Regions from separate parts of the Homo sapiens genome. Here region 2 is linked to region 1. The links come from fine-mapping of genetic effects on gene expression. A gene starts in region 1. The other region holds a variant in brackets. All regions are shown on one strand. Distances are from middle to middle. Region 1 holds the start of NECAB1 (N-terminal EF-hand calcium binding protein 1). Region 2 overlaps LOC105375633 (a long non-coding RNA gene).

Region 1 (8,345 bases):
TGCTGAAATCACAGAGTGCCATTATCCATTTGATTAATTCATCCTCAGGGCTCCCCTGGCACTGTGGCCACACTCAACACTACACTGTGAGTGTCTACTGCCATTAATAAACTTCCCCGCACATCCCTTGATTCAGGTTTAAACACACAAGTGAAGTGTCCTATCAGCTGAGCCTAGCTCTCAGCCTGTGCTCCAGCTACCAGAGAAGAGGGAGAGGATCTCCTTTCTTTCCTTCAGAAGGGGCGAGTTCTGCCCCCAGTCAGGAAACACACCATGGGGATAGGCACTTAAAGCGGAAGGGGATTTGGATCCTAAGCTGCCAAGGCAACAAAAATGTCCACTAACCTGACTGAAAGGATTCTGAGTCATCACTCAAAAGGGAAGGATAACCTTCCCTAGAATTTAAGATATAAATAAGATAGATTCCCAGCTGTCTGAAATGGTTTAGATAATAGTTCTTCTACAAGGCAGAGATGGATTGAAATACAATATATTCCCACACAGCTATCATCTCCTGAAATGCTAGAAATATCTTCACGTCAAAGTCTTATCATAGGAAGCCTGAGAGCTGGAATCTGGAATTACATTTCTATTTTTTTTAGGCCCTTGCTACAAAGAAGTTGCATTTCCTCCCTCAAGTCGGTTGTCTGCTGTTTGTGACTGATACTATGCACAGCAGTGAGGCATGTGTGTTTCACGAAAATGTGTGAAAACTGCTTTCAAAAATGCATGCCATCTAGATAAAAAGAAAACTATAAAAATATGTTTGGTTGCCACTTCGTAGAGCCTATTGAATTTGTCTGTGAATGTGAATCTAATTGCCATTTTTTCTACTACAGCCTCTGTGAACATTACATTTCCATTAAAAAGAGAAGTCAGTTACAGCAGAATGTATTCCTGTGTTCACATAGGAATCATAAAAATAAATAATGATCGGTTGATTGCTTAATAATTTATGTTTCTCCTTGATAGACCATTAGAGGAAATAAGCAAATCCACAGGTACAGAAAATGTCATTCATTGTCAGTAAAGTGTTACAAACAGCTTCCTGTAACTGAAGTGTTTGTAACTAAAGTGTTACAAACAGCTTCCTGGTTTTGAATGATGACTGCTGATTATTCTCCTGTTCTTCATTTATAATCAGAGAAAGTCTCCTTTATTAACTATTCTTGTTACCATGGGATTGGCATAAAAATATTATCACTTGTGTGGTTGAATTTGAGGGCTGAGGGACCCGCACAACTTGGGTTAGAGGGGTCAGACTTAAACTGCACTTGTTGCAGAAAAATCTATTCCATTCTTCATCCAATGGCAGGAATAAACAACATGTTATTTTGATAAATTCAGTAACTTGATGTTAATGGTTGACAGCCCCCCTCCTTCTCGTGGTTTTTCTCCTTCAGTGATTTGAATGACCTGTGTCTATCTGATGGGTTGACCAGTATGTTTTTTTTTTAAATGATTTTGTATCTATTTTGATGAACAGTTGTCAAAGAGAAGGGTCTATTCTCACTGTTCAGGTAAGGAAATTTGCAGTTAATTAGGAAAATGCACATAAAGATGTCAGATGAATATTCCTAAAGCACAGCTCCAATCAATATCTCACCCCTGATTAAGTTTAATGTCTCTAACTCTCTACCTAATTAAGTCCAGAGTTCTATCCCCGGGCTTCACAGATTTTCATCCTATAGCCTCTGCCTATTTTCTGAGATTTTATTCTACTTTTTTCCTGTACTGTATGTACAGCACAGTTAAGTTTGGTGATTCTTAATCCTTGCTGCACATCAGAATCACATGGAAATCTTCAAACAAACAAACATTAATCCACTGGGCCCACCGCATACTAATTGAAAGTGAATTTGAGGATGAAGCACAGGCATCAGTTTGGTTTGTGTGTGTGTGTGTTTGTGCAGGGAGGGTTAGCTCCTTATTTTGGTTATCTATTGTTACAAATCCAACCACCTCAACACTTATTTGTATGAAACGGTATACATTTTATTATGTTCCCAATTCTGTGGTCCAACTGTTCTGACACAGCACAGCACTGGTAGTGTGCCTTTACTCCATGATGCCTGGGGTTTTGGCTGGGACAACTCACATGGCTAGGGATGTCTGCAAGAGCTGGGAGCTGGAGTCATTTGCAGGCTTCCTCATTGACATTTCTGCTGCTGAGGCTGGGATAATGCAAAGGCTCTGCTTAGCTATACCTGTAAGCCAGGTGTCTACACTTGCCTTTCCATATACCTTGGGCTTCCTCAAAGCATGGTGGCTTAAGGTAGAAAAACTTCCTATACGGAAGTTCAAGAATCCAGGAGCAAATCCACTGTAAAAAGTGGAATTGCAAAGGCTTTTATGCCCCTACCCTCGGAAAGCACATAGCAACACTTCTGTTCCATTTCATTCATTGTAGCAGTCACAATCTTTCAGATTTAAGGGGAGGGGACCCACTTCTCTATAGGAAGAATGTCAATGAATTTGTGGGCACATTTTAAAGTTACCACACACCCCAGGTGATTCCAATGTACAGGCAGCGTTGAGAACAACTGGATTCATTTTTTTTTTTTGTAAGCACCCATCTACAAAGGAGCAGTGGGACTTGGGTGAAGTGAACAAGACACCTAGGGTGCAAAATTTAAGAAAATCATTCTCAGGATCATGCAAGCACAGGATAGAGATTGAGAGCAAGTGCCTCCTTACATTCTGTGCTCAAGTGGCCCCACTTGCCACACCCTAGTCCTGAGCCTACTACATAGCAACTGTGTATGAATCATTAGGGTGAGGGGGACTTGGATTTCTGGACTAGACAGTACTTTAGTATTGGGATTTGGAAAGCCCAGGTAGGATCTGGGATTCTGTATGTTTATAGGAATCCCCAGTGGACTACTTCCAGCTTCCACGTGCTTTCCTGGTGCCATGCTTTGCTTACGCTGTTCCTTCTGCCTGGAAGTGTTTTCCTTCTATTTCTATCAAGCATGGAGTATCCACTGATTTTTAAGGTCCATTTCATATACCGCTTCTTTCATCAAGCTTTTATTGGTCCCCCCAGCCAGAGTGTAACCTGTCTCTCCTGAGAAACCCCTAGCATGTTTTACATGCCTTTAAGACACTCACATGTTGATCAGCATTTTGGTTGTGTGTGGGCCTGTCTTATAGGAAGAATATGTTTACTTTTCTCCAAAGGCCACAAAATGGAGATCTGGATCCTCCTCACCCGTTCTCACTGGTAGAGGCAGAGTCTTGTTTAGACAAGGTTCCCTCTTTTTTGCCTTATCTCGCTCCCAGATAGCTCAAGTTTGTAACCAACACATACACATTTTAGATGCCCAATAAACTGGATCTCTCTCCTGATGAAAGGTGTGGTCAGTTTCCTATTTTTACAGCCTTCGCAGAAGCCGTCAAATATTGAATAATTACCCTGGTTTAAATGCTTAAACACAGATAAGGACTTCGTCTTGTGACTTTGGGAAACTTCATATTTGAACATTACCTAACAATCCTTGCCCCATAGCAAACGTTTCGAAGCCTACTCTAGGCAGAGTTCATAGCACCGCCTTTGTCAGCAGCACTGCCATAGGTAAGCCTCAGAACCCTCTGGGGTGAGACCGGTGTAACCATTTTACTGATGAGGAAAAGTGAGGCTTACAGGTTAAGTCCTTCGAGCGCAAGATAACACCGAATGGCTTAATCCCTACACCAAACCAGCTGCTCCTCGATTGCTGGTATTCGTGAACCCTGCCCCCGCCTTTGGGGAAGGTCGGGCAGACAGGCCACTGGGACCAAAAGCAGAGTAGGTAGAACCTCTCTGAGTTCCTCCCTATTTATGGCATCCACTCAGGTGAGGCTGGGGGCGTCCTTACCTTGCGCTTTGGCTGCTCAGGACAAACGCCCTGCCATTCGTCCCTTCTCTCTGTCCGGACGCCCTCCTCCATCCCTGCACTTGGGGCCGTCGTGGGGCTGGTAGGGGTCCCCAGGCTATCTCCAGCCGTGGCCGATGGCCGTGCCGGGGGCAGAGCCCGCTCCCCTCCGCGCGTTGCTACGTGCGGGGATGACATGGATCCAGACGCCGTCAACTACGGGAAGGAGGAGGCGAGAGTTGGAGCGCGTGGGAGCGCAGAGGCCGGAGGAGGGAGGGGGGGACACCGAGCGCGGAGAGCGCGGAGAGCGCGGAGGGAGGCGCGCGCGGGAGCGAACACCCTCCCGGATCCAGAGCCCGGCGGCGGCGAAGCAGCAGCTGCGGCCGCGCCCTTGCCAGAGCCGGTGCGTCCGCCTAGCCCCGCTCCGCCTGAGGCCGTCAGGGCTCCCGAGGATGGAAGATTCCCAGGAGACATCGCCGTCCTCCAACAACTCCTCGGAGGAGCTCAGCTCTGCTCTGCACCTGTCCAAGGGCATGTCGATCTTCCTCGACGTAAGTACAGATGGTGGGAGCTGGGCGGTTGCTTCCCAGCACCTTTCTTTTCCCCGAAAGGAAGGGGTTCGGCTCAGGTGCTGACCAGCCAATGCTTTGTCCCCAGAACACAGGCGAGAACTACCGATGCAAATGCAGGAGGAACGACTGTCCCTTAACTTGCAGCTAGGGCTGTCCCAGACCTGCAGCTTGTGGCTTAACACCCTTAAGAAAACTGCAAAAGTTAGATTTTCCAACAGGCTGGGTTTCGTAGAGACACTATTGCAAATACAACAGACAACATTTGAGTGCATAGGACATTTTAAAGAGGCACAAGGTGTGGGGGGTGAGGTGGGGACAGTGTCCCAACTCATCTCTCTAACGCGCCCTATTCGCAGCCTTCACACTCGTGGATGCTCTCAAGCAACCCAGCCAGGGAAGCAGCAGCGATTGAGATGCCCTCGTTATCCTCCCCCAGACCCCCTCGGAAAACAATTACTTTGAGCATATTTGTTTTTCTTTTTACAGCGGTGGGAAATATCATTTTCATAATGATTCTTTTTGTCACTGCCACCTCTTCTATTTTCCCTTTTTCTTCCCTGATATTCTCCTTCTCTCCAAGTTCTAATTACTACTGTCACCTCCATGAATTCTAGCTTTTGACTATTTTCCCTTTGGTCCAATTTCTCACTTCGGTATCGACTGCCTGCCTTCATTACTCTGATCTGATTACATCCTTTCTTTTCCTTCTGTGCTGTTTCTTTTTCCCGTATGGTGTGGTTTCTATCTTTACAGCACTTTTATTTCTTATTTATTTCTCAATTTTGTTTTCCTCTCCTGCCTGCTGTTTCTGTTTTCTCTATTTTTCCGTCTGTTGCCTATCTCTTCTCTCTGCTTTGGGGTTTCTCTCAGCTGCTTGCCGGGCTCCAGGCTCTCCCAGCCCCTCAGTTGTCACATTCATGCTGTTGCCGGAGGTCGTGTCTATCTCAGTGGGGACAATTCTGTCTGCTTCTTGTTTAGGCATGATAGAAAATGTCAAAGGACATGGAGGAGTGCTACGTGCTCTGTCCTTTACCCTTCTCTGAGTTATCTTTTCTTATTAAAGTCAAAATGAGTGGGAGATGGGCCAGAAGCCAGATACATTTGTTTGTGGAGAGATGAAAATATGAGGAAATCAATTAGTATCATAATGGTGAGGCAGAGATAAAGAGGATAGGAGGATGTGAGGCGCTCTCCCAAGTTTATTTTGAATGGATTGGCTAGAATTCTTTTTAATTCTAGGGAAAGAAACTCCTATCAATAATTCAAACTGTTGTAAGGCAAATGATAGAAGTGAGGTTCAACTGTGTGTACTGGCAGCCTTCACCCTTTATCACCTGGTGGCTCCAATTGGTGATCCAGGCATTCTGGGCTGGTCATCTCCTTCCCACCAAATCTCAGGTGTGGTCATTCCTATTCAGCCACCCAATCAGGTGGTTAAGTACCTTATCCTTCATGAGCATTTATCTCTGCCTGGCTTGGGTCAGTCAGATGGTATTATTGGTGCTCATGGCTTAACGGGCTGATCTTATTCAAGTTTTGCTGTTCAGGGCCATAAAGCACTTGAGGAGGTAAGCTGAGAAAAGAGAAGGGCACCACAACATGCCTGAAAAGTCAGGGCCCCTGGAAATCATGTCAGTTATGAGGCTGACAATTAAGGGGCCATGGAGTTGATTCAAAGGGGACAAGTGGGGCCTCCATTCATTCTGACCTGATCTTCACTCTGTCCCCCATTGAGATCAAGTGCTTCCCTGTGCTTTTTAAAAAGCACTTAACAAACCCCGGTGATAGTGTGGAGATGAATGGATTAAAACTACACAAATGGAAAGTCATCCTCCTGACTCATACACCAGCCATTGCTTAAGTGTTCAACTGCAATGTTTTCGAAGAGAAAATTAAAATTTCATTTTTTATTATGTATGCATGATTGTTTCCAAGTCTGTAAACAAATAGCATCAGGTCCCTGTACTAAAGGAACTTGTAGTCTGTGAATAGGGTGGTCTTGCCTTTTATATTTCAGAGATTTAAAAATAAAAATAGGAAACTGATTCCCTATGAGAGGTGTTGACATGCTTGTTTGTCGGTAAAATGCTAGAGTCTACAAAAAAAACCTGCCATTGGATTTTGTGTCAAATGGAAAAGATTTTGTTTACACTTTTCTTTGAGTTATTTTGTGAAAAATCTAACACTGGTGAAATATGTGATATGAAAAATGATTTGTTACTTAGGGATTTGTGAATTATTCATTTCTGGATCATACCACTTTTAGCAAAATAAAATATAAAATATACATGCATCACTTTATTTATTTGATTTAATATATTCTATGGCACTAGCAAGAAAGATTACTTTTAAAATTATCTTCATATTATAATACATAGGTGATAGATATTACCTGTTCCAAACTGGAACAGGTAATTTTCTGTGTGTCTTCTGTATCAAACAGACAATTTCCAAATTTGAGGAAAACTTTGATTTGCAGTGCTTTTTATTGCAATGTCACTGGAATAATCAATCATTTAAGAAATGATGTAAACTGCTACTGAGAACACTATTAATGACATGATACATGACCAGCTGGTTGGAAACTAGAGACAGATTTTAACAAGAAAATCAGAGATAGATTTGCCACAACTGTTGGCTTTTCCTTCAGTATCCTCTCCAAATCAGCAATAGTAATCACTATGATACTTCCTTAGGCTGTTGTGAGTATGAAATAAGGGAAAATGGAAACAAAGCAAAAAGTATTGCATAAATTTGAAGTATTATGGTTATTTCAGTGCTGCACACTGAGTGTATTAAATAACAGTAACAGTAGCTAAATCCACAAACTGATGCAGGGACTATTTCTTCATGAATCTAATTTATAGAATTGTCTTGCTAGAATATGACAGAATTAAGTATCGGTTCATCATAAATACTCTTGAATACTGATGGGAGGCTTAGAAAACCTAGCACTGGTGCCAAGGTATGCCAGTGCATTGAGGCTGGAGCAAGCATTTGCATATGGCATGCCTGCCAGCCACAGGAGAGGGACTCAACTGGGTCCTGGCAACACATAGGACCACAGGGATTACTATTGCTTTTCCTTTTACACCAATGGACTATCATTTCCCCAGTTGCTGCAATCCAGTTAACAGAAGAGGAACTCTAGTTTGGAATACTAGTCTATGTAGCATGTGTCTCCTCTTTTGAGTCATTACATTAATCAACTCCGCTACTGTGAAAAGGGAGAAAAACAAACCTTCAACTCATCCCCAAAAGCAAGAGAAATTCCCAAACGAAATTAGTAGCAACTTCATCCACCCAATGCCACTTTCCTTTCCCATCAGTTTTCCTTTGATTTTTAACTGGAAGGGAAGTGACTGTTCCCCACTTCACTGCTAAAGAGGGAAAGAGGCTGGAAAGTTGTGAGGGGGATGAATGACTTTACTGCTTGTCTTCCCTTCCTTCCTTCGTCTAAGCATGCACACTCATGTACACTCTGAATGCAAGATACAGAGCATAGATGGTCAGGAACTTGGTGAAAACAAGAAATAGTTTCTTTTCACAAGGACACTTAATTCTGAAGCCCCATATATGCTCATTTGTATGATGTGTGAGATGCACAGAGGAATGTCGAAGCCGAATGAGTCTTCCAGATGCAATGGTTCTGTGACTGAACTCTGTTATAGCCACACACCTCCCATCTCACCTCATCTCTCTCACACACACACACACACACACACACACACACACTTGCTCATTTGAGTGAGATTGTCCAGTTCAGAGGATGGCAGTTAACCCCATCATTGTCTACCCTCATTGGCAAGGCAAATGTCACTCTTGTAGTTATAGGAAACAGCAGAAATTAGGAAAAAAAAATTTAATGCATGCTGGGCTTAATACCTAGGTGATGGATTGATAGGTGCAGCAAACCACC
Region 2 (8,345 bases), 72 kb before region 1:
ATAGTAAACATAGTATCAAATAGGAAGTTTTGCAGCTCTTGACCCTTTTCCTCTTTCCATCCTCACCAACATGTTATCTTTTGGCTTTTTAATGATAGCCATTCTGACTGATGTGGGATGGTATCTCACTGTGGTTTTGATCTGCATCTCTATGATGATTAGTGATGCTGACCATTTTTTCATATGTTTATTGGACACTTGTATGTCTTCTTTGGGGGTTATTTGTTTTATTCTTGACTTAAGTTCCTTGTACATTCTGGATATGAGCCCTTTGTTAGACGCATAGTTCGCAAATATTTCCTCTCATTCTGTATGTTATCTGTTTATTCTTTTGCTGTGCAGAAGCTCTTTAGTTTAATTAGGTTCCACATGTCAAGTTTTGTTTTTGTTGCAATTGCTTTTAAAGACTTAGTCATAAATTCTTTGCCAGGCCGATGTCCAGAATAGTGTTTCCTAGGTTTTCTTCTAGGATTTTTATAGTGTGAGGTTTTATATTTTAGTCTTTAATCTTTCTTGAGTTAATTTTGATATATAGTGAGGGATAAGTGTACAGTTTCATTCTTTTGCATATGATTAGCCAATTCCCCCAGCATCATTTATTGAATAGGGAGTTTTTTCCCCATTGCTTATTTTTGTTGATTTTGTCAAAGATCAGTTAGGTGTAGGTGTGCAGCTTTATTTCTAGATTCTCTAATCTTTTCCATTAGTCCATGTGTCTATTTTTGTCCCAGTACCATGCTGTTTTGGTTACTGTAGCCTTGAAATATACTTGAAGTCAGATAATGTGATGCCTGTGGTTTTGTTCATTTTGATTAGGATTGCTTTGGCTATTTGTGCTCTTTTTTGATTCCATATGAATTTTAGAATATTTTTTCTAATTCTGTGAAAAATGACATTGGTAATTTGATAGGGATAGCATTGATTCTGTATCCTGTGGATTTACTAAATTCATTTATTAACTCCCATTGTTGTTTTGTAGATGCCTTTGGACCTTCTAAATTGAGTATCATTTTATCTTAAAATAAAGAGAGTTTTATTTCTTTCTTTTCAATTTATATATATATATTTTTTCTTGCCTTATTTCATGGTTAGTTCTTTGTTGGGAACAGGCCCCCCAAAATCTGGCCATAAACTGGCCCCAAAACTAGCCATAAAAAAAATCTCTGCAGCACTGTGACATGTTCATGATGGCCATAATGCCCACACTGGAAGGTTGTGGGTTTACCAGAATGAGGGCAAGGAACAGCTGGCCCACTCAAGGTGGAAAACCACTTGAAGGCATTCTTAAACCACAAACAATAGCATAAGCGATCTGTGCCTTAAGGACGTGCTCCTGCTGCAGTTAACTAGCCCAATCTATTCCTTTAATTCAGCCCATCCCTTTGTTTCCCATAAGGGATACTTTTAGTTAATTCAATATCTATAGAAACATGGCTAATGACTGGCTTGCTGTTAATAAATATGTGGGTAAATCTCTGTTCAAGGTTCCCAGCTCTGAAGGCTGTGAGACCCCAGATTTCCCCTTTCACACCTCTATATTTCTGTGTGTGTGTCTTTAATTCCTCTAGCGCCACTGGGTTAGGGTCTCCCTGACTGAGCTGGTCTTGGCAGTTCTTGTTGTACAGGTTAGTACAATGTTGAATATAAGTGGTAAGAATTCGGGGTAAAATGTTCAGTCTTTTACCATTAAATATACTGTTAGCTGCAAATTTTTGTAGATGCCCTTGGTCAGATTGATAAGCTTTCTTTTCATTTTAGTTTTCTGAGATTTTAAACAATCATAAATAGGTATTGAATTATGTCCAGCGATTTTTTTGGATCTAGTAAAATGACCATATAATTTTTGTTTTGTTCTGTTAATGTGGTGAATTACATTGTTTAACTTTACAACATGAGACCAATCCTGGGATAAAAAATCCTTAGTCTTGATGTGTTAAACTTTTTACATATTTCTTGATTTGATTTGCTAATATTTTATGATTCAGGGATTATTTATAAATGTGCCACTTGATTGCTAAACATTTGGAACTTCTTGTTTTTTTCTTTAGTTTTTTCAGTTTTTTATTCTGTATTTAGAAGCTCTATTATTAATCTGTATGCACATAATAAATTTTGCATTTAAAAAAATAAGTGGCCAAATAGTAAACAATTTAGGTTTTGGGTGTCATACTGTCTCTGTCACAACCCACATCTGTCTTTGTAGCTCTAAAGTAGACAAAAACAATATGTAATCAAATAAGGATGGCTGCATTCATAAAACTTCATTTAAAACAGAAACAGGTACAACAATTAACTCAAGATGGATTAAAGACAGAAATGTAAAACCTAGAACCATAAAAACCCTAGAAGAAAACTTAGGCAATACCGTTTAGGACATAGGCATGGGCAAAGACTTCATGACTAATTCACCAAAAGCAATGGCAACAAAAGCCAAAATTGACAAATGGGATCTAATTAAACTAAAGCGCTTCTGCACGGCAAAAGACACTAGCATCAGAGTGAACAGGCAAACTACAGAATGGGAGAAAATTTTTGCAATCTACCCTTCTGACAAAGGCCTAATATCCAGAATCTACAAGGAACTTAAACAAATTTACAAGAAAAAAATACACAACCCCATCAAAAAAGTGGGCAAAGGATATGAACAGACACTTCTCAAAAGAAGACATTTATGTGGCCAACAAACATATGAAAAAAAGCTCATCATAACTGGTCATTAGAAAAATGCAAATTAAACCACAGTGAGATACCATCTCATGCCAGTTAGAATGGCAATCAATTGAAAAGTCTGGAAACAACAGATGCTGGAGAGGATGTGGAGAACTAGGAACACTTTTACACTGTTGGTGGGAGTGTAAATTACTTCAGCCATTGTGGAAGACAGTGTGGTGATTCCTCAAGGATCCAGAACTAGAAATACCATTCGATCCAGGAGTCCCATTACTGGGTATATACCCAGGGATTATAAATCATTCTACTATAAAGACACATGCATACATATGTTTATTGCAGCACTATTTACAATAGCAAAGACTTGGAACCCACCCAAATGCCCATCAATGATAGACTGGATAAAGAAAATGTGGCACGTATACACCATGGAATACTATACAGCCATAAAAAAGAATGCGTTCATATCCTTTGCAGGGACATGGATGAAACTAGAAACCATCATTCTCAGCAAACTAACACAGGAACACAAAACCAAACACCGCATGTTCTCCTCATAAGTGAGAGTTGAACAATGAGAACACATGGACACAGGAAGGGGAACATCACACACCAGGGCCTGTCAGGGTGTGGGGGGAAAGGGGAGGGAGAGCATTAAGACAAACACCTAATGCATGTGGGACTTAAAACCTAGATGACAGGTTGATGAGTGCAGCAAACCACCATGGCACATGTATACCTATGTAAGAAACCTGCACGTTCTGCACATGTATCCCAGAACTTAAAGTAAAATATAAAAAATGAAAGAAACAGGTAGCAGGCCAGATTTGGTTCACAGACTGTTATTTGCTCATTCGTGAAACAGAATTGATATGTCTTTTAATGAATAAACTTTTTGTCATTATGTAATGGTGATGTCTCTGGTGGTACTCTTTTCTTGACATCTACATTGCCTTATTAATATAAATACTTCTTTCTCATTCTTACTATTTTCATATTTTTTCTTTTAATATATTTATGTATTTACATTTAATGCATTTCTTTCTAAATAGCATACAGTTGGGCATTGCTTTTTTTCCACTCTAATACTCTCTGTTTTTTAATTGGAGTATCTAGTTCATTGCCTTTTATGTGATTATCAGTATGGTTGGGTTTAAAACAATCATTTTGCTTCTTGTTTCCTATTTGTTCTATCTTTTCTTGAGACTCCACTATTTCCTTCTACCTTCTTTTTGACTAGTCAATTTTTTTATATTTCATTTTACCTCCTCTTTTAAATTTTTATCTGTAACTCTTTTATTTTTAGTGATTTCTTTAGTTATTTTAATATGTATCCTTAACTTATCACAGTCTATTTTAAATTAATATTACAGCACTTCCTTATAAGGTAAGAATCTTCCAAACTATACTATGATTTATACACTTGTACTTTGTGCTATTATTGTCATCCATTTGACTTTTACAGATAATTTAAACCACACGATATATTGTTATTACTTGTGATTTAAACAATCTGTGTTTGTGTCTGAAATGTCACTATCTGGATGATCTGAGCATCTGTTATATTGTCTGTTGTTTTTCTTGGTTTCCATCCCGTAGTTTTGTCTCCCTGTGTGCCTGATCTTTTAAATTTCATGCCAGTTGTTGGTATTTGAAAAATTATAGAGGTAATTTGAAGTCTAAAGTAAACTTCATCTCAAATAATATTTGCATTTGTTTCTGGCAGATTGTTGGAACAAAAGCAATACCAGCTTACCTTAATCCACTCAGGAACAGAGGTGATTCAAAACTGAATGTCAGTCCTTGTGAGGGCTGGACTACATCAGTTTACCCTCAGTCCTTAGGTGGAGGTCTCGTCCTAAAATTTGGAGATTTGTAGGGCCCTCCCTCTCCTTGGAAGCCTCTACATTCTAGTTTGCACCCTCCTAAGCTCACAGTGCTGTTGAAAGCTCAGTTTAGCTTCCCAGCCTCTGAAACTTCTCTTGTAGAATTAGCTACTGTCTCTGCAGAAAAGTAGTCCAAATATCAGGCTTGCCT[C/T]TCTGGGTTTTCTTCTCTGTGCTTTTGTTTGGTATTCATTTCTTCCTTTGTAGCTCACCAATATTCTCATATTTTTAAAAACATTGTTTATCAAACTTTTCTAGTTGTTCTTGGCAGTAGAATTGGTTCAGATCAACCAGTTGACCAAGCTGAATACATTTTTTCATAATTCCTAAATTTGTTTATGTATCTCCCCAGGATTATATTTATAATTAATTTTATATCTGGCTGGGCTTTTAGTAATATTAGTTATGAAAAACTTTTTTTATTGTGAATTGTGTTACATTTAGAAAAACTCATACAAAATCTAGACACAACTAATTTTTGTAAAGTGAATATTCAATGTAACTACCACAAAGGTCAAGACTTTTAATTTCAAGCAAAAATTATCTGACTTTAGGAAGTTTATAGATACTCTCCAACAATGATGGTCGTAACACAGTGGAATATAGCAACCTTAATTACAATGATAGGCACATAGAAACTAAAGATTCCAAGGCTACTTACAAAGAAATGATAACTTTATCTCAATAAATTTTATTAATTCCAAGTAGAAGGTATATTTCTTAGAGTGGGAGCAAAATAAGAATATTCAGAAACCAGTTCACTGACCAAGGCTTAAAATAAACGCACATTGTGTATAATTCAAAGATGTGGGAAATTGATTATGTTGTTCACAACACTTTTCTCACCAGGATTAGGATATAAAGGATTGAATATCACAATTTGGAGCATTTCAATTTGTGAATAGTAATTAAATTTATTTATTAATTACATACACTTTGAAAGTTAATGTTTCTTACAAATCACATAAGTATAGAAAGGATAAATTGATGAGACTATCTGGTACAAAAGAAAATAGTGGTAGAAAATAAAACAAGCTAAGGTTAGTATACCAAAATCTTTATCATAAGTTTATGTAGTATTTTTAGAGGTGAGCTACACATTGGACTCTGAATTTCTTTTAGTGACAAAGCAAAGAGGGAAAAACAATCAGTTTCAAGATTCACAGTACTACAAAAGATTGTTTGAAGATTCACAAACAAACCAATTGTTCAGGAGATGCACAGCTGTTCCTGGTACTGGTATCTGATAAAAATTTCTGCTAGGAGCCCTTATCCTGAAGCTACTTAGATGAATATACAAACTAGAATGGACTGATTTATTTTTAACCAAACGACAAGACACATTAGATGTGGTATAGAAAATAAGTTGCTAAAATGGACTGGACAATCACATGAATATGAGTAAACTAGTTGTGAATATGAACAAGAAAGATACTAAAGACATGTCCAACCAATAGAGAGTTAAATCAGAGGAGAATTTATACCTTATCTAGAGGTCTGAGATAAATGTTTTCCTCTGCCACTTCCCTACAAACAGCTGCTCTACTAAAGGGTGTTTGATTTCAGTGGACTATTTTAAAGTAGAAACAAGGAGAATCAATGTGAAAAGGGTGTACTATGGTTCTGAAGAGTTATGACTTTCCAAAATTCGTCTCAAATTAAGGTGTAAACAAAACATAAAGTCACCTCTGGGACCCAGTAAGTGCTCAATGAGGAAATTCTAGGACTAAAAATGCATTCTATTACATTAAAAATTACTGGCTGGGCTTAACAGCAGGGTACAGGAGAAAGAGTCCATCAACTACTAGAAATTATCCAATCAGAAGAATAAAGAGAGAAAGATTGAGAAAATATCAGCATTGCCTCAGAGACATGTGGGAAAATATCTAAAGTTCTATTATACGTAAAATAGTTCTAGAATTAAAAGAGGGAAATGCTAGAGCATAAAGGTTATTTGACAAAATAATGCCCAAGTTAGTTCTGCTTCTCTTTAGGATCTAGAAAGTCACAAAAGAACATGAACCCCATTGTAACAATAAGTAAAACTGGATAATCTACAAAATCATAACTTTTCTTGCTTACTACCAAGCATGATTCATACTATTACTGAATCAATATAACCGAAATTTTGTGGGGTACATTGAAGCAACATTTGTGAAAGGGGTAAAATCATCCCCATTCCTGTAGAAGGGATCTTTGCCATAGAAACTCTGACACTAGAATTTCTTCAGGCACAGTAGCTGACCATAGGGCTAACTGTTGTCCTATCAGGGTAGTTGAGAAATAGCAGATTAACTTTATTACAGCTCAGTCTCCCCTGTTTTGACCTTCAGGAGTTGGGAAATTGGGCATATCTTTGTTATTAAGTACATCAAGAAAATTAAATAATTCTTTGGGTCCAGTTGTAATAACAATTAAAGCCAATATTTATTAAGCGCTTACAATGTACTAGGCACTGTTTTAAGTTCTTTTAGTTGTTATTATACTCAATCCTCCTAACAAATCCATTAGGTAGTTACAATTAATCATTCCTCTTCACATATAAAGAAACTCAGCCCCTGAGAGGATGGATGAGGATCTTTCCCAAGGTCACAGCGTTAGTAAATGATGATGCTGGTATTAGAACTTGGGAGCACTTTCTCCTGAATTGACATTATTAATTAATCTCTATGTTATGCTCCCTTCCATCGGGGACAGAAGGTGTATTAGTCTAAAGCAATGGCTTACTAGATCACAGTTTAGAAGCTACAAAAAGTAAGTAAGAGGTAGGAAAAAGATATTTGTCTTAATCATCTTTAGTGACTCACCCTACTTTAATGGTTTCAATATGCTAACATATCTCCTTTCCAATTTTGATTTTAAAAAGCACTATAGACATATTTAACTTTACTGAGCATCTGTGTTTAGTTATACCTTACTGTTCCTACCCACTAATCACATGAATTGTTAAAATATTAGTCATTCTTTATGATAGTTTATAAAAATAAAAGTTTTTATTTTAAAAATTCTATTATAAGAGTTTTCATCAAGAAAAATATATTATTAACCTAAAAGGCTCAGAAAATTGGCATAACTATCATCATTGTCATTTCAGTAGTTTAAAAAAATCATACCCTATTCAGATAAATACTGCTTTATTCTTTGATGTCTTTTGATAGAAAATAAACTATGACATGAATAAAAACTAAAATAGAGACCTCAGCCTTACTTTAAGGGACAAAAACTCAAATAACTAGGGCCTCATTTCTCCTTTCTCTTTTTTTCTCTATGGAGTTCTTCCAATTTTCTGCCTAAACAGACTCTGCCCCCATGTGTTGTATATCCTTAATACTGGCATTGGGTTCTCTTACAGGGCTGCAAAAGTACTCAAGTCCACTGAGTAGTCTGGTGGGTTGTTCAGCCAATTTGGCATTAACATCTGCCCAGCTACTAGGCTTGTCTGTATAAAATAAGGCTAAGTCAGTAGTTACAGATGGTCCACTAAAGCTGCTCACTCACCTTTGAGATACATGAGAGCTCCCTTCAATCAGAATTGAAATCAAAGAATATGATGATTAGAAAGGAGTTAAAATCCAGAGAAGGAAACTGGGATCACTGTTCTGTAAGATGTTTCTGAGCCCCTCAATCAAAGGAAGAGTCCTTCTGGTTGTTATCATAGCAAATACAAGAGGAAAAAAATAATTGGCATTCTAGTATAATAATATTATTCAGGTAGAGGAAATATTTAAAAATAATTCATTGAATTATGAAGCAGACATATTGTCTTTGCAATTAGAAATGTTTAACTCTCAG

Evidence for each region. PIP is the estimated chance that this variant, and not a neighbour inherited with it, causes the effect.
Region 2: its variant is fine-mapped to the expression of NECAB1 in iPS cells (PhLiPS, PIP 0.95).

Annotation. Positions count from the first base shown.
Region 1 is chr8:90,787,581-90,795,925 of GRCh38, forward strand. NECAB1 (N-terminal EF-hand calcium binding protein 1) reads left to right here and starts at 4,195. Exons shown (of 13, transcript NM_022351.5): 1 at 4,195-4,405. The coding sequence starts at 4,307. It overlaps LOC105375633 (a long non-coding RNA gene), which reads right to left and starts at 4,588. Exons shown (of 4, transcript XR_928389.4): 1 at 3,858-4,588.
Region 2 is chr8:90,716,051-90,724,395 of GRCh38, forward strand. All of the region lies in intron 1 of LOC105375633 (a long non-coding RNA gene), which reads right to left. Among named protein-coding and RNA genes, the nearest start is that of NECAB1, 72 kb to the right of the region's middle. The variant C/T (reference allele first, on the strand shown) is at 4,708.